7 linked regions of the Homo sapiens genome follow. The protein of the gene in region 1 purifies or fractionates together with the protein of each later gene. This does not show direct contact. Each region holds a gene or a part of one and is shown in the gene's direction. Other genes may lie near its edges.

What was found.
Region 2: the proteins of ECHDC2 (region 1) and MMAB purify together in Homo sapiens (affinity purification with mass spectrometry; one large-scale study listed by BioGRID and IntAct). This does not show direct contact.
Region 3: the proteins of ECHDC2 (region 1) and NDUFS6 purify together in Homo sapiens (affinity purification with mass spectrometry; 3 studies listed by BioGRID and IntAct, with this or other methods). This does not show direct contact.
Region 4: the proteins of ECHDC2 (region 1) and IVD purify together in Homo sapiens (affinity purification with mass spectrometry; one large-scale study listed by BioGRID and IntAct). This does not show direct contact.
Region 5: the proteins of ECHDC2 (region 1) and DBT purify together in Homo sapiens (affinity purification with mass spectrometry; one large-scale study listed by BioGRID and IntAct). This does not show direct contact.
Region 6: the proteins of ECHDC2 (region 1) and CYP24A1 purify together in Homo sapiens (affinity purification with mass spectrometry; one large-scale study listed by BioGRID and IntAct). This does not show direct contact.
Region 7: the proteins of ECHDC2 (region 1) and UQCC1 purify together in Homo sapiens (affinity purification with mass spectrometry, with the first as the bait; one large-scale study listed by BioGRID). This does not show direct contact.

What each region holds. Positions count from the first base shown.
Region 1 is NC_000001.11:52,897,347-52,901,360, reverse strand, and holds part of ECHDC2 (enoyl-CoA hydratase domain-containing protein 2, mitochondrial), read left to right. Parts: intron 1-2,136; coding exon 2,137-2,187; intron 2,188-2,606; coding exon of another isoform or gene 2,607-2,781; intron 2,782-3,876; coding exon 3,877-3,924; intron 3,925-4,014.
Region 2 is NC_000012.12:109,566,695-109,570,708, reverse strand, and holds part of MMAB (corrinoid adenosyltransferase MMAB precursor), read left to right. Parts: intron 1-1,845; coding exon 1,846-1,939; exon of another isoform or gene 1,940-2,406; coding exon of another isoform or gene 2,407-2,454; intron 2,455-3,132; exon of another isoform or gene 3,133-3,355; intron 3,356-3,541; exon of another isoform or gene 3,542-3,681; coding exon of another isoform or gene 3,682-3,698; intron 3,699-4,014. UniProt on the Homo sapiens protein: Converts cob(I)alamin to adenosylcobalamin (adenosylcob(III)alamin), a coenzyme for methylmalonyl-CoA mutase, therefore participates in the final step of the vitamin B12 conversion.
Region 3 is NC_000005.10:1,807,686-1,811,699, forward strand, and holds part of NDUFS6 (NADH dehydrogenase [ubiquinone] iron-sulfur protein 6, mitochondrial precursor), read left to right. Parts: intron 1-4,014. UniProt on the Homo sapiens protein: Accessory subunit of the mitochondrial membrane respiratory chain NADH dehydrogenase (Complex I), that is believed not to be involved in catalysis. Complex I functions in the transfer of electrons from NADH to the respiratory chain.
Region 4 is NC_000015.10:40,411,834-40,415,847, forward strand, and holds part of IVD (isovaleryl-CoA dehydrogenase, mitochondrial isoform 1 precursor), read left to right. Parts: intron 1-1,157; coding exon 1,158-1,254; intron 1,255-2,989; coding exon of another isoform or gene 2,990-3,036; exon of another isoform or gene 3,037-3,055; coding exon 3,056-3,149; intron 3,150-3,567; coding exon 3,568-3,649; intron 3,650-4,014.
Region 5 is NC_000001.11:100,239,778-100,243,791, reverse strand, and holds part of DBT (lipoamide acyltransferase component of branched-chain alpha-keto acid dehydrogenase complex, mitochondrial isoform 1 precursor), read left to right. Parts: intron 1-2,907; coding exon 2,908-3,031; intron 3,032-4,014. UniProt on the Homo sapiens protein: The branched-chain alpha-keto dehydrogenase complex catalyzes the overall conversion of alpha-keto acids to acyl-CoA and CO(2).
Region 6 is NC_000020.11:54,152,456-54,157,010, reverse strand, and holds the end of CYP24A1 (1,25-dihydroxyvitamin D(3) 24-hydroxylase, mitochondrial isoform 1 precursor), read left to right. Parts: exon of another isoform or gene 1-2,249; 3' UTR 2,250-3,565; downstream 3,566-4,555.
Region 7 is NC_000020.11:35,401,695-35,405,708, reverse strand, and holds part of UQCC1 (ubiquinol-cytochrome c reductase complex assembly factor 1), read left to right. Parts: intron 1-4,014. UniProt on the Homo sapiens protein: Required for the assembly of the ubiquinol-cytochrome c reductase complex (mitochondrial respiratory chain complex III or cytochrome b-c1 complex). Involved in cytochrome b translation and/or stability.

The sequences.
Region 1 (4,014 bases):
CGATCATAGCTCACCACAGCCTTGAAGCCCTGGGCCTGAGCAGTCCTTCCACCTCAGCCTCTGAATAGCTGGGACTACAGGTGCAAGCTACTGACTTGGCTAGAATTTGGCTGTTTTCACTCACAAACATACGTACATACCGTTTTTAACTTTAATAAAAGGTTACTTTATTTATTTATTTATTTATTTATTTATTTATTTTTGAGACAGGGTCTGGCTCTTTTGCCCAGGCTGGAGTGCAGTGGCATGATCACAGCTCACTGGAGCATTGACCTCTCAGGCCCAAGTGATCCTTCCACCTAAGACTACTGAGTAGCTGAGACTACAGGTGCAAGTCACCACGCCCAGCTAATTTTTTATTTTTTGTAGAGATGGGATCTCATGATGATGCCCAGGCTGGTCTCAAACTCTTTGGGCAAGCAATCCTCCTGCCTCAGCCTCTCAAAGCCCTGTGATTACAGGCGTGAGCCACTGCACCTGGCCAAGATTACTTCCTTTATTGGGTAGTTACCTAAATAATAACACATATGGCAAGCAAATCTAAAAGAACAGAGGAGTAAGAAGGGCATAAGGTAAAAATCAAAGGCAAGATGACCAGCTAGTCCTGGTTTACCTGTGACTACCCCAGTTTTAAAAGTGGAAGTCCCATATCCCAGTAACCCTTCAGTCACAAGCAAACCCAAACAGCCCTTCATTTCCCAATCCCTCTCTCTCCCCAGATCATCACTATTGTTTCCATACTCTTCCAGAAATTTCCATTGCATATGGAAGGACGTGTATTATGCACATATGCTTACATATTTAAATAAATTCCTTTTAATGGCTTAGAGGACAAGAAATATCTTTCGAGGCTAATCTGTTTCTAACAAATTTTAAAAACAAAATTTAAATATGCATAGTAAGGAATTCAAACATGGAAGAATATAAAACAAAACCTTCATTTTATATAACAAAACATTTATAAACCTTCGTTTATAAAACAAAACAAAGGTTTGGTTTTGTTTTATAAAGGCACACCAGCATTTTGCCAGTTTTTGCCAAATTGCTCTCCTGTGGCATACTCTTTTACTTTTCTATCAATAATGTATGTAAATACTGGTTTCCCCAGTCTCGGCAGTAGTAGGCATATTGATATTTTAGTATTTGCTGGTCTGAGGTGAAAGGGCACAGTACCTCACTGTTTTGATTTGCCTTTCAAGCGTGTAGCAGCTGCTGGACATCCTTCACGTTCGTACTTCTTTTCCGGTGGACCTTTTACATACTCTTTTGTAAATGGTTTAAAAGTTACTTTATACTAACTTTTTTGTAAATCAAGGAAATTCATCTGTCATAAGCATTGCAATTCTTTTTCCCAGTTTTTTTTTTTTTTGAGACTTTTCCTGAGAAAGTTTTATAAACACTTCAAATAATATGATATAGGAAGTAATTCCTCCTTGCCTGGAAGTGGGGCTGAGACTGGAGTGCTAGGGCTGGTGTGGAACCAAGGCCAGTGACAAAGCAGACACTGTTGCTTCTATGTGGCTGTATTAAAATGCACCCGCCCCTCTGCACTGCCCCACAGACCAGGATTTCAACACAGCCCTGTCGACTTGAAAGCCCAAGTTCCTAACCCTGACTTTGTTTCACTCTGCTGGGGTAAAACCTTACCGCAGAGGCTGGCATTTGCTGAAATGAGGTCGAGGAAGTGGGAAAGGTGGTTGGGAGTCCAATCCAAGTCTCACCAATGATTGGATAAACACAGCCAAGTGCTTCACCTCCCTGCACTGCAATCTCACAGCTGTAAAATCACAGCTGGGTCATCAGTGATGACACCAGCCTAGAAGTGTGGGTAGCACCATTAGATGAGTCTGTGGGGGAGGAAAGCACTTTGTAAACTAGTTATGTTGTGCATGTTGGAAGGATGGGCTGAATAACAAGAAACCCAGGTGTTCAGGGATCAGAGTCTGGCTTCTTTCATGATAGAAAAAGAACCTCAGCTAACAGGTTATAGGACTAACGCTAAAGAAACTGTCAGCAGAATGGCTGGAACCAGACCCAGACATCTGCCTCCCTCCTTTAAAACAAAGCTGTGCACCTCAGACCTGCAACTATCAGCCTTGATGCCCTCCTCAACCAAGACTTTTTGCTTTTCCCTAGGCCCCCATTGCCGTGCGGCTGGGCAAAGTAGCCATTGACCGAGGAACGGAGGTGAGAGGGTTTTGGGTTGGGACTTGGGTCCACTAAAGTTGGTCGCGGCTGGGACACAGTGCTTTCAGAGCTCAGACAGCACAGCTGGGAAAAACTCAGGAAGTGGACTCTTCTAACAGACTTGAACTCTGACCTCGTGCTCTACGTCAGTTTACACATCTGCAAATTGGCCAGACAGTATTATTGTTTACATTCTATCCTCATCTTTCTCCCTTGGAGAGAGGATGAGATTGAGGTTAAGAAAGGGTAAATGATTTGCCCAAGGTCTCAGAGGAAGTGAGTAGAAAGAACCCGGGTCTGTGTGGCTGCCAGTCCATGCTGCAAGATTTGTGCTGGCAGTAATGTGGCCTCAGGGCAGGGCTTGGGGTGATGCCTTGGGTGTGGCTAATCCATCTGTCCACCTCAACTCTCCCATCTAGTTAATCCATCTGTCCACCTCAACTCTCCCATCTAGTCACTCATCACACACTGAATCCAGAACAAAGCTGGGAACTGGGATACAGATGGATGAGTTAAACATGGTCACTGCCCCCGGGAGGGGGCAGATACAGACACAAATCAAGGATAATGGTACCACGCTGACACCCCAGAAAGGTTAGAGCTTTGCGGTCCATTATGATATCCATGTGTGGCTTTTAAATTAAAAGTAAAATGTGGTCAGGCGCGGTGGCTCATGCCTGTAGTCCCAGCACTTTGGGAGGCTGAGGCGGGCGATCACGAGGTCAGGAGATCGAGACCATCCTGGCTAACACAGTGAAACCCCGTCTCTACTAAAAATACAAAAAATTAGCCAGGCGTGGTGGCAGGCACCTGTAGTCCCAGCTACTCAGGAGGCTGAGGCAGGCGAATCGCTTGAACCCAGGAGGCGGAGTTTGCAGTGAGCCGAGATCGCACCACTGCACTCCAGCCTGGGCGACAGAGCGAGACTCCGTCTCAAAATAAATAAATAAATAAATAAAATAAAATGTTCAGTTTCTCCTTCACGCTAATCACAGTTCACGTGCTTGACATTCACATGCGGCTAGTGGCTACCATACTGGGCAGTGCTCGGTTAAAGACTGTTTTCTACAGTTGGACTGTGGGAAGGATAAAAATTCCAGAGGAAAAGTATGGGCAAAGGCACAGAGGAGGATAAGCAAGCAGCTCGTCCAGATGAGAGTGAGGGAAGAAGAGAGAGTGCAAGTTCGAGGCACTAGGCTGTCTGGGTTCAAAGACCTGCTCTTCCACATACTGTTGTGAACTTTGACAAATTATTTCACCTTTCTATGCCTCAGGTTTCTCAGCTGTAGAATAGGGATACTAACCCTTGCTGTGAAAATTAAGTTCACACACACATGGTACTTCTCTTAGAATGAGGCTTTCAAGTGCCAGTCAGTGGGCCCTAGAGGCTGGAGCAATTGCCAGGGCCCAGGTCATAAAGGTTCAGAAATTAACGGGTGACAGGAAGCGTGGTGAGGCAGCCGGATGGGAAGGAGAACTCCTCTTCTCTGGCAAAATGTCTCAGTCTGTCTCGTTTCTCCCAGCAGTTTTGTCATAGTTACGAATGGTGTTTCTTCTCTAGGAGGGAAATTCCTTCTCATAGCTATCTCTGCTCATATAGATGTCTGTAGGCAATAGGGTGGGCTGGCTTCCAGTGTGGGTGAAGATGGACAAGGTCAGACCAATCCAGGGAGCACGTCTTTCTTGCAGGTGGACATTGCATCTGGGATGGCCATTGAAGGGATGTGCTATGCCCAGGTATGTAGCAACCAGCCCATGCCTGCTTGTTAACATAGGCTGGGCCAGGCTAGAGGGACTTTGTATGGTACATGACCAATTTTAGAAGGT
Region 2 (4,014 bases), on another chromosome or scaffold:
TTGTAGAGATGAGGTCTTGCTGTGTTGCCCAGGCTGGTCTTGAACTGCTAGGCTCAAGGTATCCTCCCAGCTCAGCCTCCCAAAATGCTGGGATTACAGGAGGCATGAGCTACCGCACCAAGACAGTATACCATTTTTTGTAGTACAAAAGCATGCAGACCACTAGTATGTATTGTTTTTTGGATATATACTTGTATAGTAAAAGTATAAAAGCATGTACGGGACATACTCAGTGCCACTGAATGGTAAACTTAAGAAGGGTCAAAATGGTAAAATTTCTGTTATGTATCATCTGTTACCACAATTAAAAAGAAGGAAGAGGATGTTGGAAAGGACTTATTGTAGGGTTGGGCTTGTGTTGGGTGGTTACAAGGAAGTGGGGCTTTGTTCTGGATTGAATCCTGTTAGGAAGCAGGGCTGTTTCTGTCACTGGGTATCTTTTTTTGTTTTTTGAGACAGGGTCTAGTTCTGTTGCCCAGGCTGGAGTGCAGTGGCACGATCTCAGCTCACTGCAACCTCCTGGGTTCAAGCAATTCTTATGCCTCAGCCTCGCGAATAGCTGGGACTACAGGCATGCATCACCATGCCCAACTAATTTTTTCTGTTTTTAGTAGAGACGGGGATTTGCCATGTTGGCCAGGCTAGTCTCGAACTCCTGGCCTCAAGTGATCTGCCCACCATGGCCTCCCAAAGTCCTGGGATTACAGTGTGAGCCACTGCACCTGGCCTGTAATTGGGTATGTTAATAATTTGTTTCTAGAAGACAGAAGGGACAAAGAGGTGCTAACGCTGTAATGGATAAAGATGCAGCAGTCACTCACATTAGCCAGGGAAGGGGGAGGTTTGGTCATCTTTTGGAGTTTGGACACAGTCGTCTGTGCTCAGACGTTCTTCCGCAGTGGCCTTGTCTTGGTCTCGAACCGTCATAGTCATAGAGTGGCCTGTCTGATGGTTTTCTGTGAAATGGTTTGTGTTCAGCAGAACACCACAGTCTACCTGTGAGTGCCAGGCCGGCACCTGGCAACCCCAAAGCCTGCCCGATAGCGAAAGCCAGCTCCAAACTGTCAGGGGCAGTTTTCACTTTCTCAGAGGTTGGGGGAGAAAGGCGGGACTGTGAGCTAGGCAGAGGCACAGAGGACTTTGACTTCATGTGAAATATAATGGTAATGTATATATGATATAAAATATAGAACGTGTTGTATTTCTTTATCAGGATGGTTAGTATGTGGTTTTTAAGTTGAAAAGCACATCAGGAAAGAAGTGAGCATAGTGGCTAACCCTTGGGGAGTGGCAACTAAAAGGGGTTACATGGGGGCTTTCAGGGTGTTGCTCATGTTCTGTTTATGAAGCTAGGTGCTGATCAAGGAGGTATATTCAGTTAGTAGTAATTCACCAACTTGCACACTTACGATTTGAGCACTTTTCTGTGTATATGCTATATTTCAAGTTGAAAGTTCTTTAAGGGGTGGTACGGTGGCTCATGCCTGTAATCTCAGCACTTTGGGAGGCTGAGGCGGGTGAATCACTTGAGACCAGGAGTTCAAGACTAGCTCGGCCAACATGGGCGAAAACCCGTCTCTACTAAAAATACAAAAATTAGCCGGGCATGGTGGTACACACTTGTAATCCCAGCTACTTGGGAGACTGAGGCATGAGAATCACTTGAACCTGGGAGGGGGAGGCTGCAGTGAGCCAAGATCACGCCGCTGTACTCCAGCCTGGATGACAGAGTGACTGTTCAAAAAAGAGAAAGTTCTTTAAAATCTTTGAAAGTTTAAAAAAAAAAAAACAGCATATCAGGAAAACAGAATCTTAATTTGGGTGGCTAAACATTTTTTTCCACAGGGTTTTCTAGTACCTTCACAGGAGAAAGGAGACCCAAAGATGACCAAGTGTTTGAAGCCGTGGGAACTACAGATGAATTAAGTTCAGCTATTGGGTAAGGGGGACAGGATTGGCCTTGAGGTTGCGTTTGAGTCGAGTATGAGTAAACGTAATGAATGTGAAGCTCTCACGCATGCTGGGCAGCAGCCTCGGAGGTTGTCAGCCCTTATTGAACTTTCCTCAGCCCTGAAGCACAGGCTGGTCAGCTCCACAAGGCTGTGGGGCTGCAGACTCCTTTCCCTTCTGGCCCTGCCTGTGCCTGCGCTGGCCTCTGGCCCATGCCATGTGAAGCTGCCTCCCTCTCATCCCTCACTTTTCAGGTGAGCCTGTGTGTGCCACTGAGGTTAGTATACTGAGTGAAAGAGGTGAGTTAGTATAATGCACAGTACATCCAATGTGATCCCTTTTGTGACTGTTGTTTTTTACATAAGCCAAAGTTTAGAAGGTGGACTCAAGGATGGACCAGATCAGGATGGGCCAGGTCATGCTGTGATCACAGACAACCCCAAAATCTCCTGACTTATGACACCAAAGATGGACTTGCTGTTCCCACTTCATGCCCATCACAGGGTATATTCTTTGGCTCCATGCGGCCTTCATTCTGGGACACAGGCTGCTAGTACAGCTGCTGCCTGGGGCAATTATCAGTCATTGTGGCAGAGGGAAAAGAGGTCATGGTGAAGCTCACATTGGCTCCTGACGCTGCCAGGGGATTGTGCAGTGTCAGTGTTGTCGCCAGTGAGGTTTACCCAAGATGTGATTATTGCTGATTGAAAACTTTTCCCACTACCCCACCATGATGACTTGAAATATAGTCAACATTGGCAGTTTTTGACAGTCTTTATGGAGACTAAACTTTGTTGGTAAATAAAAGTTGAAAAAAAAATGACTAGGTGCAGCGGCTCACATGTCTAATCCCAGCGCTTTGGGAGGCCGAGGTGGGAGAATCACTTGAGCTCAGGAGTTTGAGACCAGCCTGAGCAACATAGCAAGACTTCATCTCTACTAAAAAGAAAAGTTAAAAAATTAGCCAGGCGTGGTGGTGCACACCTGTAGTCCCAGCTACTCAGAAAGCTGAGGCAGGAGGATCACTTGAGTCTGGGAGGTTGAGGCTGCAGTGAGCCATGATCGCACCACTGCACTCCAGTCTGGGTGACAGAGTACGACTCTGTCTCCAAAAGACAAACCTTTCTTGGGAATGATGCCTTCCATTTATTCACATTTCAGCGGCCAGAGCCTGTCACGTGCACATGCCTGACATCAGCGGGGTAGGAGGGGCAGCAAATATTTGCAAGCAGGAGCACAGTCTGCCCAGCATGCCCTACAGGCTGGTGACAGGGGGAGCAGCAACAGTCTCAGGTGCTGGATCCTGAAATCTGACCCCGGGGCCCTGGGGTTATAGGTGCATGGGAGCCAGACAGACCCAGCTGCAAATTTTCAGCACCGCTGCTGATTGTCTCTGGGACGTCAGGTAAATCACGTGGCCTCTGTGAGCCTCAGTTTACGGTTCTGTCAAGTAGTCATCATGATAATTCCCATCTCACTGTTCTTGTGGGGCTTAAATGAGATGATTCCATGTTTCACCCTGAGGACAGTGCCTAGCACAAGTAAAAATAATGTTAGCTATTATCACTCTTCTTTTTTTTTTTTTTCCGAGACGGAGTTTCGCGCTTGTTGCCCAGACTGGAGTGCAATGGTGTGATCTCGGCTCACTGCAACCTCTGCCTCCCGGGTTCAAGCGAGTCTCCTCATTATTACTATTCTTAACACTTACCTGTTCCTGGCTACCATTTCTCCATGGCGGGCCTGACTAGGTGAGATTTTCGGGACAGATAATGGGAGGTACAGATAGTCAGCCAGCCGGGTAGAGAAGGCAAACAAACCCCTTGGTGTGTGTGGGAGGGGGTCCAGAAGAGGGCAGACACAAGACCAAGTGGGCAAAGGGAGAAAAGGCCAGTTCTCGCATCAGCTATTCTAATGAGCTCTAAAACACGAGCCATCGTCTCTCAGTTGAGGAGGAGCGGGAGGTTGGAGAAACCTCAGTTGTGGATTCTTCCTTGGTCAGATATTGACCAAGCATCTGCAGTGCGAGGCGCTGCTCAACAGAGAACCTCAGCCCCGCCTTCCTGA
Region 3 (4,014 bases), on another chromosome or scaffold:
CTCGGATCAGCAGTGGAAGAAACTTGTGACATCTTTCGTCTACATTGAGCCATCTCTTGAGGCCAGCGCAGCACCACCCGAACCATGTTGGCTCTCGTGCGTGCACACACACACTGTTGGTCACAGGAGGGATGCCACCAGAGAGCTGAGAGGGAGTGCTGAGGTACCCAGGGGTCAGTAGCTGCAGGAAGCAGCCACTATTCCTAGGACTTGGGGGGCAGGAGGAAGAGGTGGCGTCACCAGGAGGGAGCTGTGAAAGTGCCCTTGTGGTGCCGCTGGAGCTCCAGGTGGGAGACAGGACTGGGAGTCGGGGATGGGTGCTAGGGTGAGGCCCCCAGCCAGACAGTGGTGGCTGAGAAGGTCCTCCGTGAGAGGAAGATTGAATTGAGGGGCCTCGGAATTCCACCCTCCGCCTTTGCAGGTCATCTGGTTGGTGGCAGAGGTGGAGCTCTGTGCTTGCTTCCAGGTTCATCCTTAGAGGGTTTAAGAGGGGAGGTTTGCCTGAGTCTCTCTTGTCTTGAAGCAACCTGGGCGTCCTTTAGGGGGTGTTTGAGACGCGGGCGGTGCGATGTGCGCCATGGCTGCTCTCCAGAGCTTTTGTGTGGCTTCCCGCTTCTGCATGCTCCTCCTCCTGAGCTTCCCTCCCAAATACGCCATCTTTATAGTGGAGTGAAGGCAATCGGATTTTAAAAGAAATCTTCTGGATGGATAAGAACCGTGGGTCTTTGCTTCCTTTAGAAAGGCTTGGACTGTCAGAAATAATGGTTATAAAGTGAGGTTTATTTATCCCAGGACCCAGAGGAAAATAGTTGGAACTGTGAATTCACGAGCCCCAGGTTCACATGCTGGTGGCTTTGTTTGTGAGCTGGCGAGATGGGCTTTATTTCCTCCCTCATGCAGCTCCCCAGCTTCGTCTTTGCTTCTCTATTGTGTCTTTGTGTCTTGTGGTTCTTTCTCTTCCAAGGCACTGGCAAAATTAGTCACTGGATTCCAACATTCTCAAAGCAAGTTTGAACATGTTGTACAGACAGCTCAATTGTGGTTTTTAGAGCATTTTCTATAAAGTTACTTAGTTTAAAAATTAATTTGAATGAAAACTTCAGTTTTGCCTGTGATTTAAGAATTATATACTTATATAGACATGTATACACACGTTTAGCTTAAATAATTATTGGCATTCATGTTCAGAATGCCTGATGTTCTAAATAATTGAACTGAGCTTTTACTTTATTTTAAACTTTTATTTTAAATGTCCATGAATGGGGTCGGTATTCTACAGTGTCGATGATCCAGCTGGTGGACTTTTCCCTTCTGCGTTGGTTTTGATGCTGTGTCACAGAATCACATATTTTATGTTTTATCTTTAATAGATGTAATCTCAGTTTGACACAATAGGACTTTGACTCCTAAAGATTTAAACCTACATATCTTTATGCCCAATCATTTGATCATCAAGAGGTCAATGGAAAGAGTGTTTCCTATTTTTTACATTAGTGACGGGCGAGGGACTCATTTTACAGAGGTTGGACACTTCACTGTGTATGATGTGCCGTGTGCTTAACAAGAGATGGCGTGCGGGCTGCTGTGACGGTTCTCCCTTGATTCCCTCGTGAAGTGCAGCAGCGCTCTTCAGTTTTTCTCACCTTTCCCCAGGTGAAAGCAGGTGAGAATGGAGCCTTGAGTCTGAACCCAGAGCGGGGCTTTGTGTTGTGGCTGGGTGTGTTCACTGCCGGAGCTTGGCCGTGTGAACCCGGAGCCGGGCTCTGTGTCGTGGCTGGGTGTGTTCACTGCTGGTTCTTTGTATTCCTGCGGTTGCACTGAGCTCCTGGAGCCAGACGTTTGCTGGTGATGGGCGGTCAGGGTCACCCTTGAGCTGCGCACACTAAATGACGGGAGGGCATCCCGCGTCAGTCGCCAGTGTCGAGGCGTCAGCAGCCCTCCCTGCAGGGAGGTGGCCGGTCTCTTTGACTGCCGTGATCGGGGCCTGGCAGTTTGTTAGTGCGGCCTTTGTGACACGTTGTCACTTAGGCAGACACCATATTATTTACACCATAAGGCTTAATTTGTATGGTTAGTTGCATCGCCTGCAGCAGGGGTGAGCAGAACATCGCTCACTCCAGAGCCCTCTGTAAGGCGCTGCGACAAGGCGAGCCGCCGGGCCGGCAGCAGAGGCTTGTGTTGCTGGAGCGTGTGGAACAACCTGGGCGGCGCCACACGGCTCAGGCCTCTGCTTTAATGTGGCTTCATTTTCCACTAACTTCCTACTGTGTTTCTGGAAATAGATCTTCAAGGAAAAGCTTTACACAATGGTCATCTGTAACTGACAGAACCTCTTGAAAAATAAACCTTTCCGAAACATATCTGTGAGGGAGAGTGGTGCCCTGCCTCCCACTGCGTGTGTGTTCTCTGTGACTGTGTGGCATTGAATGGGCCTCTAGTCTCCAGAAATGAGTGACTTTGTGATGAGCCCTGTTGCTGCTTCCACTCTGGGGCGGGGACGCTGTAGAAGGAGCACAAAGTTTCAGGCTGTGCCATTAAGCAGGGGAACCCCAGGAGCAACATCCGAGGCAGAGGGTTGTGTCATGCTTGGCGGGGCTGGCCCTCCAGGAGGGGACATGCAGGTAGACCCACATCCCTGGGCTTAGAGGCCTGCTGGGGGTGTAGAGTTGAGTTCCTTCCCTCTACATGCACAGATGCCGGCGCTCTACTTCCCATAGCTTCCCGGTTCTTCGTGCCTTGTCTTCCTGGCACTTAATCGTTGACTGTTCCCAGGGGCAGCTGAAAGGGGCTGGCTCATTACAGAGTCAGAGGAAATCAAGGCATGTCCCCTTTCCAAGTTCCCAAATTTGCCATCGTGAGCATCATCAAATACATTATTTGCCAAGCCAGGATGTTTTAATTGCTTTTTAAAAAACATAAATTCTGTGAAACAGAGGGAATAGTCTAATGATTCCCTTTTCCCATGTATCCAGGCAGTCAGTTTCAACAATTACCAACCGAAGTAGTTGTCGGAGGGGCCAGTCTGGCTCAGCTCCTCTAATGGTTGTCGGAGTGGCCAGTCCGGCTCAGCTCTGCTAATCGTTGTCGGAGTGGCCAGTCTGGCTCAGCTCTGCTCTGCCTCTCCCCCGGCCCCCCAGCCCCTGGTAATGTTGATGTGAATCTTTGACATCATGTTACTGAGTCTAAATTTATCTGTATGTAAGTTGACCCTTGAACAACATAGGTGTGAACTGTGAGTCCACTTAAGTGGCTTCTCTTTCGCCTCTGCCACCCCTGAGACAGCAGGACCAACCCTCCCTTCCTCCTCCTCAGCCTGCTCTACGTGAAGATGATGAGGATGAAGACCTTTATGACGATCCACTTCCACTTAATGAAAAGTCAGTTCATTTTCTCTTCCTTGTGATTTCCTTCATTGCATTTTCTTCCTCTAGCTTACTTTATTATAAGAATCCAATATATAATACTTGTAACATGCAAAATATATGTTAATCGACCATTTATGTTATTGGCAAACATTCTGGTCAGCATCAGGCTATGAGTAAATTGTGGGGGAGTCAAAAATAATATGCAGATTTTCAATTGTGTTGGGGGTGGTTCCCCCAACCCCTGAGTTGTTCAAGGATTAACTGTACCTTCAAAAGATACTAACATTCAGATCTTACAGGGAAGTAAAAAAAAAACAAAATAACAAAATATATTAACATGACAACAATATAATTATCACACCTTAAAAATTATACTTTCTTTAAGTTAAATATCTAAGTGGTGTTAAATATTCTTGATCATGCATGTTTTTAAAAATGTTACAGTGTGACTCCGAGCCCAGGTAAGTTCCTACATGCAGCTGTTGGTGTCTCTTATGTCTCTTTTAATCTGTAGGTTCCCATCGGTCTCCCACTCTCTTTCTCATTGGAGAATTTTATTTGTTAAAGAACCTGGGTCATTTCCTCTGTAGAGTCACCCACAGCTGGATTCTACTGACCGCATCACTGTAGTGTTGTTGAACATGTCTCT
Region 4 (4,014 bases), on another chromosome or scaffold:
TGCAAGGAGGGTGACCAAAAGTCCAGGAAGTCCAGGGCAGATGGGTCACTTCTGAAGACGGTGGAGCCGTCCTCAGCGCCAGGCCACACAAAGAGGTCTAGAAAGGGGAGGACTAAAAGGAGGTCAGGACATGACGGTCAGGGTACCATTGGTGGATCTGATGAATGTGGCCATGGGAGACTGAGGTGTGGGTGGGATGCAAGTGGAGACTGCCCCTGCAACAGCCTTGACAACAGAAGCAAGAAGGAAGCAGAGCAGGAGTTCCAATGAAAAGTTAGGAGTTTGGGTTTGTTTTTAGAAATGAGAGAACTGAGCAGATTTTTTGGTCAGAAGGAAAAAAAAGGGAAGAAAAAAGAAAATAGAGGGAGAAATTGAAAAGTGTGGGAATGAGTGGGCAGAACACAATGGTGAGCTGGGGCAGAAGAGAGAAGGATGGGTTACAGGTGATGGTGCAGGAACCACTTGCCTAACGATCATGAGGAGGAAGCCAGGGGCCCTGTGAAGGCTGGGGCCACGAGTGGGGGAGTTGGCAAGAGTTTCATGAGCGAGTATTGTAAAGGTTTGCGGTACCCTCCATAGAGAGGGGGAAAGTAGCTGTCTAGGGTTGGAGCAGTAGGGACCTGGCTGAGATTGGAAATCTCAAGGTTGCGTGATGCCACCCTCATTACAGGCTGAAGGCAGCATGTGCCAGCACTTTGCTGGTCACTTGCCAAAACATGCTGCAACCCAGTAGTCCAGGTCAAAGTACAGAGGGCTCAGTTCAGCCCTAGTGGGATCCCTTTGGGTACAGACAGGAGAACAACAGAGGATAAGGGAATTGACCGGGCTGGTGACAGTGTCTTGGAAGTAATGTCCCCTGGGGGAGGGAAATAAGGCCAGGGGGGTCGGGAGGGCTCAGGGAACTGAGCATATCATTGAGAAAGAAGTGTCCCCATGAGAACTGGGGAGAACACAAGCTAGTGGCAGAGGAGGCTGGGATCAATCTGGGGCGTTAGCACCGGAAGGTCCCGGGGGGAGCATGGGACTAGGATGCTGCCATGCTGTGCAGGTACAGGGACTCAATAGGAAGGTGAGTGCCTTCTTCCCAGAGGCCTTTCCTTTACCAGGCCCCCTTGGGGCTAATCTGTAACCAGGACCACCTTTTGTTTCCTGTAAAGGGTATGCCTGGCTTTAGCACCTCTAAGAAGCTGGACAAGCTGGGGATGAGGGGCTCTAACACCTGTGAGCTAATCTTTGAAGACTGCAAGATTCCTGGTAAGTAGCACCGGGAATCGGGGAGCCCCTCTCCTGACCCCCTTCCAGGCTGATCTGGCTGTTCTCAAGTTGAGAAAGCCTCTGGGTTAGAGAGGCTTGGCATTGTTAGCGCTTCAGTGACATGTGGCTAGGCTGTGAGCTGGGGCTGCTGGACAGCGCTCCTTCCTGGCCAGGGCCCTGCAGCGGCATGCCTAACTGGCATCACACACTCCGCATAGGGTCTGTACTCAGTAGCCGGAGGAGAAGGGTCAGACCTACCCTTTCCCATTGATGTCCTTCAGTCTTCCTGTACTTTCGCCCATCCACTGCATGTGAGTAACTCATTAACTCACGTTTTTGTAAAATATTTTAAAAATGAGTTATTCATTTTTAGCATTAATGATGCTAAGAAAAAAAAACAAAACATCTGAATCCACTGATGGAATCCCGACTCAGTAGAGAGAAGGCAGTTCTGCTTGAGTATGAGTATTTTCTCCCCTGAGGTGTAACTGAAATCTGACATGGTGGAGCACTGTGGGAGAGCCAGCACAGCCATCATGTACTAACCAGACCAGGGGCATGGATTTGTTGTTTGGGGTTTTTTTTTGTTTTTTTTGTTTGTTTGTTTGTTTGTTTGTTTTGAGAAGGAGTCTTGGCTCTGTCACCCAGGCTAGAGTGCAGTGGCGTGATCTCAGCTCACGGCAGCCTCCACCTCCTGGGTTCCAGTGATTCTCCTGCCTCAGCCTCCCGAGTAGCTGGGATTACAGGCATGCGCCACCCTGCCCAGCTAAATTTTTTGTTTGTTTTTTTGAGATGGAGTGTCGCTCTTGTTGCCCAGGGCTGGAGTGCAATGGCGCGATCTTGGCTTACTGCAACCTCCGCCCCCTGGGTTCAAGTGATTCTCCTGTCTCAGCCTTCTGAGTAGCTGGGATGACAGGCACACACCGCCCAGCTAATTTTGTATTTTTAGTAGAGACAGATGGGGTTTCACCATGTTGGCCAGGCTGCTCTCGAACTCCTGACCTCAGGTGATCCACCTGTCTCAGCCTCCCAAAGTGCCAGGATTATAGGCCTGAGCCACCTTGCCTGGCCAGGGGCATGGATTTGATCAACAGTTAGGTTTGCTGTCTGCCTCAGCCATATACCACGCCTATCACTGACAGCCCAAAAAAGTGTACTTTAATTACAGGGAGCATCCAGGGAGGGGGAGCTGTGCAGCTCCTTCTTTGTTGACAGGAAAAAATTCAGCTAGCATTAAAGGCAGGTCAGTAGTGTCAACCTGTTTTCCTGCCCACACCTCCCAAGGCCATCCAGTCTCCTGGCTTTACTGGGTGGAGAGGTGCTCAGCAGCTTCTGTCACTAGCTCTGAATGGCCTGTCTCCTGGACAAAGAAGCTTTCACGGACTACTCTGCAGGGAGGTGACATTGGACCAGAGCTGACTCCACCTGGGGGAAAGAGTAATTCTCTGGTTTCTTTATAGGTGCCTGTGTAGAAAGAGTCAGGGAGGGATTGGGTGACTTCTAGACCAATTAACTTTTCTTCTTTCCCATCCAAGGGAGTCCAGAGAGGGAAGGGAAAGATCTAACAACTCTAGCCTTTGTGGTTGGCCTCGTGGATGGGGTGGGAGTCCTGGCAGCTCCACTTCTGACTGGAAGGGGTTCACTTGATCCTTTTCTTTCACCTGGAACCTTAGTTGAATAAAGGTCAAGTGACATATTTTAGTGCCTTACTTGAGAGCCATGTTTCCAAATCTAGTACCTTTGATAAAAGTGAGGAGGCTGTGGACAGCTCTCTCCCTCTGACCAGCACTTATCCTGGCAGCTGCCAACATCCTGGGCCATGAGAATAAGGGTGTCTACGTGCTGATGAGTGGGCTGGACCTGGAGCGGCTGGTGCTGGCCGGGGGGCCTCTTGGGTAAGTGTGAGAGGCTTGAGGGAAGCTGGGCTCTGTCGGCCTCCTCGGCAGGTGACCCACCATGAGCAGCAGCAGCCTTCCCCTTGCGGGGCCAAAGGGAGCTGCCTCTTGGCCCTGCTCTCTCCTGGGAGATGAAAGGAACCTCCTCTTCCCATGTTGAATTTCTTCCCACAGTGGGGAAATATCATTAAGTAACAGACAAAAGGCCTGAGGAGCAGGGTGGCTTACTCGGCTGTGAAACGACACCTGGGCTGTCACGCCCCTGCACCTCTGGCCAGTCAGTGCCGTAACTGTGGCAAGACTTTCTGAAGTTGCTTTTCTCCTCCCTGGGATTCTGGCCTTCCCACGCTAGCATTTTGCCACCACACCCGGTGGTGGGATGAGGAGGTGCCCACGGGGCCTTTCTCCTTTCTGACAGGCTCATGCAAGCGGTCCTGGACCACACCATTCCCTACCTGCACGTGAGGGAAGCCTTTGGCCAGAAGATCGGCCACTTCCAGGTGAGCCGAGTGCTTTTGCTGACATGTACTCTTCAACTGGGCTAAAGTTTTCTTTGAAAAGAGAGGAAGTGAGGTGGGCACCGTGGATGGTTACTGTCTCCTCTAGCAAATTGAGCTTGACTGCTTGGAATGCAGTCTTCCTCAGCATGCAGCCTGACTCTGGAAGTCATCAGGAAGTTCACCACATTGCCACCTCGATTCCTGTGTGAGGTGGATGAACTAGACATTGTAAGGTTGGAGAGCAAAGCGTGCAAGTTGTGGGGGCAGAAGGGAAAGAGGTTGCTATTTGTAGTTAGACCTTCTGGTCCGAAGAAGCTGCTGGAAGGTAATAAGCATTGGAGTAAATGGTGCCTTGGGAGCCATGC
Region 5 (4,014 bases), about 47 Mb from region 1:
TCTAGGGTCTTTGACATCAAATTTATTTAGCTTCAGAGCTCGATTGTTCCACTTATTTGCTGTGTGACCTTGGACAAATTACTTCACCTTTCCCATCAGTTTCCCGTGTGTTGAAGAGGGCTAACGTGTATGTTCCACAGGGAAATTGTAAATGTAAAGATGATGTCTGGGCCGGGCACCATGGCTCATGGCCTGTAATCCTAGTACTTTGAGAGGCCAAGGTGGGCGGATTGCCTGAGCTGAGGAGGTCGAGAGCACCCTGGGCAACATAATGAAACCCCGTCTCTACTAAAATACACACAAAAAAAGTTTAGCTGGACATGATGGCACATGCCTGTAGTCCCAGCTACTTGGGAGGCTGAGGCACGAGAATCGCATGAACCTGGGAGGCGGAGGTTGCAGTAAGCTGAGATCGTGCCACTGCACTCCAGCCTGGGTGACAGAGTGAAACTCCATCTCAAAAAAAAAAGAAAAAAAGATGATGTCTAAAAAGGCTATTTTTCTTTTTTTCTTTCTTTTTTTTTTTTTTTTGGAGACAAGGTCTCTCTGTCACCTAGGCTGAAGTGCAGTGGTGTGATCTTGGCTCATTGCAACCTCCGCCTCCCAGGTTCAAGTGATTCTTGTGCCTCAGCCTCCCAAGTAGCTGGGACTACGTGTGCCACCATGTCCAGCTGATTTTTGTATTTTTAGTAGAGAGGGGGTCTCGTCATGTTGACCAGGCTGGTCTCAAACTCTTGACCTCAAGCAATCCACTCACCTCAGCCTCCCAAAGTGATGGGATTACAGGCCAGAGCCACCATGCCTGGCCTGTCTGAAAAGAAAGTACTCAGCACATGGGAGGCACTCAATAAATGTTAAGCGTGGTGGTTTATGCTGCCCCGACCCATGAATAGTTCAATACGAGTTGTGTTGTTGTTGAAGGTAAGACCTTCTAGTAGTTTAATTTTCTTTCAAATGTTTTACAAATATGAACAATTTTATTTAAATTAAGGTGAATCTATATACTTCAAAACTTTCCTTTATTGTCCCTAAGTTTTATGTCTGATGAAACAGAGGTTGATTCACTCCTTTGATTTTATTGTTGACCAAGAGTCAGGATTATGGGAGCTGAAGGAGAAAGCAAGGACAAACAAAATGGAAATGTTTGGGAAAGAGAATTCTTTTATTGTCTTCTGGTTTTAAGTTATCAATTTTAATTATTTTAGTTAGGCTTTATATTTCCTGAATATTAATGTTAGTAAAAATAAAATGTTGATATTATAAAGACTAGTCGATTTAGGGTGATCTCTAAAGTTAAGATGAATGATTTAAGATTATTTATGTTTTAGGAAAGGGATCTTCAGTTTTTCTTTGCCTTCAGAAATCAGTAATAGTTTGAAATTTAAAGTAAAAAAATAAGAATTTAAATGTATTGTTCTTGTCAGTAAACCAAACTTTTACTTTTATATTTGCTATCAGAAAAAAACAAAAATTCTAGTTTATAAATATGTATTAAAACATGACTGTACTATATGATGTTTATTATAACATAGCCTTTAAAAGTTAAGAGCTAATCACCACTAATGTACATGATTTTTTTTTTTAAGTAAAAGTGACTCTGTTACATACATGAAAAAGTTTCACTTATCAGTATTCTTATACTAAGAAGGTTAGAAATTTCTGCAGAGAAGTAAGCTCAGGGCTTTAAAATTAAATAAGTAAATAAATTCTGTAGTTTATGTTTACAGTATGATGTAGTTAAGTATTAATAGCATTGAAATTTTTTTTTTTTTGAGATGGAGTCTTGCTCTGTCACCAGGCTGGAGTGCAGTGGCTCGATCCCGGCTCACTGCAACCTCTGCCTCCCGCATTCAAGCGATTCTCCTGCCTCAGCCTCCCAAGTAGCTGGGACTACAGGCGCATGCCACCAAGCCCAGCTAATTCTTTTGTATTGTTAGTAGAGACAGGGTTTCACCATATCGGCCAGGCTGGTCTCTTTAACTCCCTACCTCGTGATCTGCCCACCTTGGCCTCCCAAAGTGCTGGGATTACAGGCGTGAGCCACCGCGCCTGGCCTAATGGCATTGAAATATTAACTTTCCAAATAAGATATTATGGCCTGGCATGGTGGCTCGCACCTGTAATTCTAGCACTTTGGGAGGCTGAGGTGGGAGGATTGCTTGAGCTCAGGACTTCAAGTCCAGCCTGGGCAACATACTGAGACCTTGTCTCTACAAATAATAAACAAAATTAATTGGGTGGGGTAGCATGCGCCTGTGGTCCCAGATACTTGGAAGGCTGAGGCAGGAGGACCCCTTGAGCCTAGAAGGTCAAGGCTTCAGTGAACTGTGATCGCACCACTGCACTCCAGCCTGGGCAACAGAGTGAGACCATGTCTCAAATACACACACACACACACACACACACACACACACACACACACACAATACCTTTCAGACACTTAGGTTTTGATATATAGAGTTGAATACATTTGGGCCTACTTATTTCTATAAGAGATTTTAAAATAATATTATACTAAGGTACTATGTAAAATAGTTAATTCTAAAGAGTCATCTATAAGTTACTATAAGTAAACTTTGGGGTATCATACTATACAAGTTTTTCATTGTTTTTAGATGCTAACTATTACTTTAGAATTCTTTAGTAGTTTTAGTTCAGGAAGTCCAATGACTTAAGCATACCTATAAGCTGATGTATTTATACAGAATACACTGTTAAAATGTCTTTACTTTCAGAAGGAATTTTGGGTAAGGATCATAAATGTAACAAATCTAAATCTAAGGATATAATATTTCTATTGTGACAATGGTTCTACTTTTAGAATGGAATTGAAATTCAATTTATACTTAGAGATAAGCCGGTATGGTTGTTTATAAATGCTTTTACTTTTTGTTTTCTCATCTGTAGATTTGTGTTCGCTATTTTCAAACATGTGGTAATGTTCATGTTTTGAAGCCAAATTATGTGTGTTTCTTTGGTTATCCTTCATTCAAGTATAGTCATCCACATCACTTCCTGAAAACAACTGCTGGTAAGTATGATTTCAAAATAACGTGTATAAAATAATGTTTTGTACCTCATTCAGTAATATTTTTTAGTAGTTGATTGAGACTTTTTAAACAAAAAAAAGTTGACTCTGTATTTCTAGCCGGGCCCTTCCCATCTCCCCACATTTTTCCAGTTCTCACTTTCTTTTTTCTCATCCCTCTCTTTTACATACTTTCCTTAACACTGGCACCCCTTTTTAAAAAAAATTTTTTTTTAGAGACAGGATCTCACTCAGTTGCCCAGATTGGAGTGCAGTGGTGTAATCACAGCTCACTATAACCTGAACTCCTGGGCTCAAGTGATCCTTCTGCCTCAGCTTCTCAAAGAGCTGGGATTACAGGCATTAACTTATCTCGCCCAGCACTTGTGTCTTTATAATATTGGGAATGGGTTGTGTTGGGCCATCTATTTATCATCTGGCTCATCTAAGTGCAATAGTCAGCATTGATATGACTTTCTCAGTCAAGGTAAATTGTTGACTTAATAGAGGTGTCTTTGTGTTGGCATACACATTGTGGTATTGTTTGTTGAAAGAAGCACTTAATCTGTCAAGTGAACATGGTGTGATGAAACCAGCCTGATTTAGTACTAAATAGAAAGTTCCCTGACTTTCACCATTTACTTACTTTTTCCCCAGCTTTTTCTACCCTCTGTAAAGAACTTGAAGGATTAAGTATTAGATTTGGCAAGGGCACAAGAACTGTTTTTTTTCCTGATGTTCTATTTAGAACCCTGATAAAGAACCCTAGACTTTTGTTACACTATTAAGTTTTTGACAGATACATGGGAGCTTAGTTTGTGCTGGGAATGAAAAATGGGGGAATTCCAGGCAGACCCCAAGTCAGCCTTTCCATGCTCTTTTTTTTTTTTTTTTTTTTTTTTTTTTTTTTTTGAGCTCTGTTGCTCAGGCTGGAGTGCAGTGGCACAATCATAGCTCACTGTAACCTCAAACTCATGGGCTCAAAT
Region 6 (4,555 bases), on another chromosome or scaffold:
TTTTTCATTTGTAAAATGATGACCCAAAGAGAGTGTATCACAAAAATTTAATATGAATACCAAGTAGTTATTCCTGAGCCTGGCATCAATTAAGTGTTCAGTAAATGCTAGCAGCTGTTCATGGTTTTTGCATGTGAATAGTAAGGGTTGGCAAACTTTTTCCGTAAAGGGCCAGTTGGCAAATATTTTAGGTTTTATGGACCATACAGTCTTTGTCACATCCTCTTAATACTACCTTGGAACATGAAAGCAGCCACAGGCAATTTGTAAACTAATGAGTGAGCTGATGTCCTAGCTTTCTATTGCTGCCACCGCAAATTACTAAAACTTAGTGAGTTACACGACACACATCTATTATCTTACAGTTCTATAGGTCAGAAGTCTGATGAGGCTCTTCCAGGCTAAAATTATCGTGTTGTCGGGGCTCTTTCTGGAGGTTCTAGAGGAGGATCTATTCTCTTGCTAGTTTGGTTGTTGGCAGAATTTAGTTCTTCATGGTTACAGGACTGAAGTCTTTATTTTTTTGCTGCTGTCAGCTGAAGGCGATCCTCAACTTTGAGAGATTTCCCATATTCCTTGGCTCATGAAACCTTCCCCAACTGAAAGCCAGTAACAATGGTTGGTTGAGTCCCTCTCACACTTTGAATCTCTCTTTCTTCTTACATTGCTTCTGTCTGACAAGATATTATCCAGGATCATGTCTCCCATCTCCAAGTTCATAAATTTAATTTCATCTGGAAAGCCCTTTTTTTCATATAAGGTAGTATATTCACGTGTTCCAGGGATTAGGGCATTCACATTTTAGGAGATCTGTTATTCTGCCTACAAAGGCTGTGTTCTGATAAATTTTATAAAAAACAAGCGGTGGACTGTATTTAGCCCTAGGGTCTAGGTTTGTGTTATGCAACCACATGTAATATAAATGTATATATTTATCAGCCTGTATTGAACACAATAGAATATTTTTTCTGCAGTATGCCATTCAATACTTTTTCTGACAATAGAGGAGTTCTCATGTTCCCTCCACAACTTTTGCCATGTCCATATACCAACCAGGTGCTATTTATTTCAATACTACTGAGTTATTTCCTTTAAATAACATAAGCCAAATAGCATATGTTGGCCTCGTCCTGAGTAATAATTTCCTTAATGAAATTAAGAGTTAGTAAGTCTAGTTATGTTCTCCTAATAGACATTACAATGAATTCAAAACTATTGAAGTGATCAAAAGTTAGCCTAAGAAGGCCCTAATTTTTTTTTTTTTTTTTTTTTTTGAGACAGTGTCTCACACTGTCACCTGGGCTGGAGTGCAATGGTGCAATCTCAGCTCACTGCAACCTCCGCCTCCTGGGTTCATGCGATTCTTCTGCCTCAGCCTCCCGAGTAGCTGGGATTACAGGCAGGTGCACACCACCACACCCAGCTAATTTTTTGTATTTTTAGTAGAGATGGGGTTTCATTATGTTGGCCAGACTGGTCTTGAACTCCTGACCTCGTGATCCACCCGCCTCGGCCTCCCAAAGTGCTGGGATTGCAAGTGTGAGCCACCACCCCTGGTGGTGGAAATAAGACATTTGTAACATATGGCTTTATAGGCTGACATGTCGGTGTTTAAACCCGGATTCTATCATTGTGTTCTTTTAGCAGCACCTTCTAGGATTTTCCTAGAAAAAAATGCTGTTTGCCAATGGCAAGTTAAGGAGCATTTGCTTATTGGTAGATTATTTAGAGAAACATGCAATTACAGATGAAATTTCTGAACAAGGCCCAAATGAATACATTATTATTCCTCCACCAAGTGTCTGATGCTATTATGAAATTTGTCAAATTCTGAGCATCCCAACCAACAGAACTGAATCAAGTAGGGTAAGGAAAGTATTCTAGCTGCATTGTGACACCCCAGCCTTCAGCAAAGAGCATGCATGTTTATCACAGTAAGCCACACCTTTTAAGTTTTAGCATTTTTTCTTTGGCTAATAATTTGTCTTGTTTAAATACACTTCTTTGATATACAATTAGGGTATACCTTTTTTTTTTTTTTTTTTTTTTTTTTTTTTTTTTTTTTTTTTTTACCAAGACCAAAACAGCCATTTCAACTTTTCTGCAAGAATGGTGCTTATGGCTTCTACGTTACCGGAAAGCAAACTTCAAACACCACACCATACAACAGCTTATAAAGAATATTTAGGCCCAGGTGTTGATACTTTTTCTTCTGCAAAATTGTTCCAGAAGCTGTACTGTCTTTCTAGATGGTGGTATTTGCTAACATCATATCCAACTCAGGGAAGCGGACTGAGTGCTGGGATCCAAGGCATTCTACAGGGTTCACTGCTGGTTTACACTTCACCTGTGTCAGCACCATCTTCAGGTGCTTAGAATGGCCTGGGAGCCTGTTCTGTCTTGCATCTTCCATGACATGAAAGGGAGGCTGGCACTTGTCAGTCAGGTAGAGGTTACAAACCGTTTCAGGCCCTGCCTACCACATTCACTGTTTGAATCTTTAATTCCCAAGAATAAGTTTACATTTCACAATGAATGACCTACAACAGCTAAATTTTCTGGGGCTGGGAGTAATACTGACAATCCATTTACTGTAGCTCTGCTTAATGTACTACTTAGGAAAATGTCCCTGCTTAATAATGTAAGCCAAGCTAAATGATGGTTAAAGTTATCAGGCCTCCCATGAAATTGCGTTCTTCCTGCATTGAAATAAAAACATTATTGGGAAACTAGAGAACACCTCTATTTTTAAAAGGACTTTAACGAAGTCAAACAACTTATAAGACTAGTGATTCACTGGGGCATTATTTTGTTAGAGGACCTTAAAATTGTTTATTTTTTAAATGTGATTCCTTTATGGCATTAGGGTAAAGATGAAGCAATAATTTTTAAATTGTGTATGTGCATATGAAGCACAGACATGCATGTGTGTGTGTGTCTGTGTGTGTGTGTCCGTGTATGTGTGTGTGGGTTCTAATGGTAATTTGCCTCAGTCATTTTTTTAATATTTGCAGTACTTGATTTAGGATCTGTGGTGCAGGGCAATGTTTCAAAGTTTAGTCACAGCTTAAAAACATTCAGTGTGACTTTAATATTATAAAATGATTTCCCATGCCATAATTTTTCTGTCTATTAAATGGGACAAGTGTAAAGCATGCAAAAGTTAGAGATCTGTTATATAACATTTGTTTTGTGATTTGAACTCCTAGGAAAAATATGATTTCATAAATGTAAAATGCACAGAAATGCATGCAATACTTATAAGACTTAAAAATTGTGTTTACAGATGGTTTATTTGTGCATATTTTTACTACTGCTTTTCCTAAATGCATACTGTATATAATTCTGTGTATTTGATAAATATTTCTTCCTACATTATATTTTTAGAATATTTCAGAAATATACATTTATGTCTTTATATTGTAATAAATATGTACATATCTAGGTATATGCTTTCTCTCTGCTGTGAAATTATTTTTAGAATTATAAATTCACGTCTTGTCAGATTTCATCTGTATACCTTCAAATTCTCTGAAAGTAAAAATAAAAGTTTTTAAATATTTGAGAGACTTCCCCTCTTTATTGCCTTTGTTACAACAAAATAAAAACAAATTCAAACTTTATTTTACTGGTAGAAAATTTTCTCATATGGCCTACAAGCCCTATATCACAAAATTTACCCTTAGATAAATCTAGACTTTAATAGCAGTTTTACTGAAAGTTTATTCTTGTAATTGCAAAATAACTTTCCATTTTGTTGCTGCTTAAATATTTCCCAAGTCCAGTTACTTCTATCTCTACCCCCTTTCCAATCACACAATCAGTCACACACTGGTTGTGTGATTGAAAGGGGGGTAGAACGGCCTGGGAGCCTGTTCTCTCTTGTATCTTTCATGACATGAAAGGGAGGCTGGCACTTGGCAGTCAGGTAGAGGTTACGAACCATTTCAGCCCCTGCCTACCACATTCACTGTTTGAATACTTAATTCCCAAGAATAAGTTTACATTTCACAATGAAAGACCTACAACAGCCAAATTTTCCGTGGCTGGGAGCAATACTGACAATCTCTTGCCTGGACCACTAATATCTCTAGTCTCTGCAGGAGCTCCCAGCTGATCTCAGTCCTCTCTTGCTTCCTTCCCCTCTGTTCTTTGCACACTTGCCTTACTGGTCTTTTCAAACCCAAACCTGATCATGCCTCATCCTGCCTCTGGGGCTTCCCATTGCTCTTACGTAAAGATCCGATTCTGCAATCCACACTTCCAGGCCCTATCAACTGAGGTCCCACTGATCCCCCAGGCCTCAGCCCACATCATCCACCCCCAGAGGCCTCTGGAACCAGGCCACAGTGGCTTCTGCCAGTTTCTGCTGTTCCTTAAATGCTAGCAAGAGGGTTCTTCCCACCGTCTCCCTCCCGGCATGCTCTTTCTCTGCCTGTTCTTCTCCTACGCACCATCTACGTCCACCCAGCTTTCATTTCCTGAAGGAAATCTTCCTTGATGACTTAGATCCCACAGGGGCTGTCCCCAGCACCGGGATTCATTAGGGTTGTGA
Region 7 (4,014 bases), on another chromosome or scaffold:
ACCATGTTGGCCAGGATGGTCTCAAACTCCTGACCTCAGGTGATCCCCCTGCCTTGGCCTCCCAAAGTGCTGGGATTACAGGTGTAAGCCACCGCACCCGGCCACTTTCTTATAGTTCTTTAGACATATTTTCATTTAGATCTTTGAACATATTTGAAATAGTTAAAAATCTCTTTGTCTGCTGCCTGGGTTTTCTTAGAGACAGTTTCTATTGATTGCATTTTTTCCCCCTGTGTATGGGCCATACTTTATTGTTTCTTTGCATGTTTTATAACTTTTTGTTGTTGAAAACTGGACATTTTAAATAATGTGGCCACTCCGGAAATCAGATTGTTTCCCTTCCCAGGGTTTGCTGTTGTATTTTTGTTTAGTGACTTTTCTGAATTGATTCTGTAGTCTGTATTCTTTGTTGTTTGTGGCTACTGAAGTCTCTGCTTAGATAGCTTAGTGGTCAGGTAATGATTAAACAAATTTCTTTAAATTTCTGTTAAATTTCTTAAAATTCTGTTCTCACTGCCTGGAAGCAGTGAGTATCCCAGTTTTTGCTTTGGGGCTCTGTGTGCACGTTGGGATGTACCTATAACACTCTGCCAGGCATTCGATAACTCTGCCTTAACTTTCACTTCCTGCTATGCAGAACCTCAAGGTCAACCACAAGTAAGAGACATTCTTAGGTCTTTCCTGAGCATGTGCACAGCTTTGGGTATATGCACAGACCTGGGTATGTTCATGGCTTCCTAGATGCCCAGGAATATATTGGGGCTTTTCTAAGCCTCTGTGGACATCTTATTCCCCAGCTTTTCCTTTAAACCTTTTTGGTTAGCCTGTTGTTTTCTCCACCTGTTAATCACTGCCTCAGGAAGCCATGAAGTCAAACAGTTACCTCTATTTGTTTTCAACCGGTGCTCCTGGGGAAAAGGTTTTTTCACACTGGGTGAGTTCTAAGACAGCCTTGAAATAGGGCCTTCTAAGGAACTGTCAGACAGGTTGAATAATGCCAGTTCTTTTTTTTTTTTTTTTTCAGAGTCAAGCTTCTTTTTTTTTTATACTTTAAGTTCTAGGGTACATGTGCACAACGTGCAGGTTTGTTACATATGTATACATGTGCCATGATGGTGTGCTGCACCCATTAACTCATCATTTACATTAGGTATATCTCTTTTTTTTTTGAGATGGAGTCTTGCTTTGTCACCCAGGCTGGAGTGCACTGGCGCAATCTCAGCTCACTGCAAGCTCCACCTCCCGGGTTCACGCCATTCTCCTGCCTCAGCCTCCCGAGTAGCTGGGACTACAGGCGCCTGCCACCATGCCCGGCTAATTTTGTTTTTTTTTTTTTTTTGAGACGGAGTCTCGCTCTGTCACCCAGGCTGGAGTGCAGTGGTGCAATCTCGGCTCACTGCAAACTCCGCCTCCTGGGTTCACGCCATTCTCCTGCCTCAGCCTCTCCGAGTAGCTGGGACTACAGGCACCCGCCACCACGCCTGGCTAATTTTTTGTATTTTTAGTAGAGACGGCATTTCACCGTGGTCTCGATCTCCTGACCTCGTGATCCGCCCGCCTCGGCTTCCCAAAGTGCTGGGATTACAAGCGTGAGCCACTGCGCCCGGCCACGCCTGGCTAATTTTTTGTATTTTTAGTAGAGATGGGGTTTCACCATGTTAGCCAGGATGGTCTCGATCTCCTGACCTTGTGATCCGCCCTCCTCGGCCTCCCAAAGTGCTTGGATTACAGGCATGAGCCACCACGCCCGGCCTAGGTATATCTCTTAATGCTATCCCTCCCCGCTCCCCCCACCCCACGACAGGCCCTGGTGTGTGATGTTCCCCTTCCTGTGTCCAAGTGTTCTCATTGTTCAATTCCCACCTCTGAGTGAGAACATGCAGTGTTTGGTTTTCTGTCCTTGTGATAGTTTGCTGAGAATGATGGTTTCCAGCTTCATCCATGTCCCTACAAAGGATATGAACTCATCCTTTTTTATGGCTGCATAGTATTCCATGGTGTATATGTGCCACATTTTCTTAATCCAGTCTATCATTGTTGGGCATTTGGGTTGGTTCCAAGTCTTTGCTATTGTGAATAGTGCCTCAGTAAACATACGTGTGTGTGTGTCTTTATAGCAGCATGATTTATAATCCTTCGGGCATATACCCAGTAATGGGATGTCTGGGAATAATGCCAGTTCTTTGTAAGGCTTTGATGAACATCATCCCCATTCTGGAGTCAACTTGTCTCCTGAGGAGACTAGTTCCTTTAGTGGTTGTTGCTATTTAGAAACCACATCTGGGTGCTACATGTGCTTATTGCTACTGGAGTGTCATCTGCAGGCCCTACCAGGACGTGGGTAGGAAATATATATATGTCTATATATACACATAAACATGCATATATCTTTTTCTTTATATATTAAAAGCCCACACCAGTTATTCTAATCTATTCTAATACCACAGGGTTTGTTCTACTCTTTTGCCTTGCCATATTTGTTAACTCCTTTCTCTGATAGAAACCTGACCCCTCACCCTTAATGTATTTATTGATTTATTCAAATCTTTCCTGTATGTAATCAATCTTTTGAAAGCTCAGATTGAAAACTCCCAAAAAAGTGGGAGGAGGCAGTGTATAGGTAATTTTTTTTTTTTTTTTTGAGACGAAGTCTCGCTCTTGTCCCCTAGGCTGGAGTGCAATGGCGCGATCTCAGGTCACTGCAACCTCCGCCTCCCGGGTTCAAGCAATTCTCCTGCCTCAGCCTCCCAAGTAGCTGGGACTGCAGGTGCATGCCCTCATGCCCAGCTAATTTTTTTGTATTTTAGTAGAGATGGGGTTTCACTGTGTTGCCCAGGCTGGTTGCAAACTCCTGAGCTCAGGCAGTCCGCCTGCCTCGGCCTCCCAAAGTACTGGAGTAATTTTTTGTTATTGTTTGAGATGGGGTCTCACTCTGTCACCCAGGCTGGAGTACAGCAGCATGATCTCTGCCTACTGCAACCTCCGCCTCCCGGGTTCAAGCGATCCTTGTGCCTCAGCCTCCTGAGTAGCTGGGATTACCAGCATGCGCCACCATGCCCGGCTAATTTATATATATTATATATATATATATATTTTGTTTGTTTGTTTGTTTGTTTGTTTGTTTGTTTTTTGAGATGGAGTCTCGCTCTGTCGCCCAGGCTAGAGTGCAGTGGTGCGATCTCAGCTCACTGCAAGCTCCGCCTCCCAGGTTCACGCCATTCTCCTGCCTCAGCCTCCCGAGTAGCTGGGACTACAGGCGCCCACCACCACACCCGGCTAATTTTTTGTATTTTTAGTAGAGACGGGGTTTCACCATGTTAGCCAGGATGGTTTCAATCTCCTGACCTCGTGATCTGCCTGCCTCGGCCTCCCAGAGTGCTGGGATTACAGGCGTAAGCCACCGCGCCCGGCCTATATTATGTATTTTTTAGTACAGACGGGTTTCACTGTGTTGGCCAGGCTGGTCTCGAACTCCTGACCTCAAGTGATCCACCCACCTCAGCCTCACAAAGTGTTGGGATTACAGGCGTGAGCCACTATGCCCGGCCTGTATTCAGTAATTTTTGAAGGAATGGTTAAACATTCTCTTCTTCCCTCTGTGGAAATATCCTTTTGTATTATAGCATGCCACATTGTAACTGGAAGGAAAGTTTGTTACCGTAGTATCTGTTCTTTGGACTCCGGAATTGAGTTAGTATCCATGGCATTTGGAATATAGGCACCAGTGGTGACTTATAAAGTGGATTTCGGCTGGGCATGGTGGCTCATGCCTGTAATCCCAGCACTTTGGGAGGCTGAGGCTGAGGGATCACCTGAGGTTGGGAGTTCGAGACCAGCCTGACCAACATGGAGAAACCCCGTCTCTACTAAAAATACAAAATTAGCTGGGCGTGGTGGCGCATACCTGTAATCCCAGCTGCTCGGGAGGCTGAGGCAGGAGAATCACTTGAACCCAGGAGGCAGAGGTTGCGGTGAGCTGAGATTGCGTCATTGCACTCCAGTCTGGGCAACAAG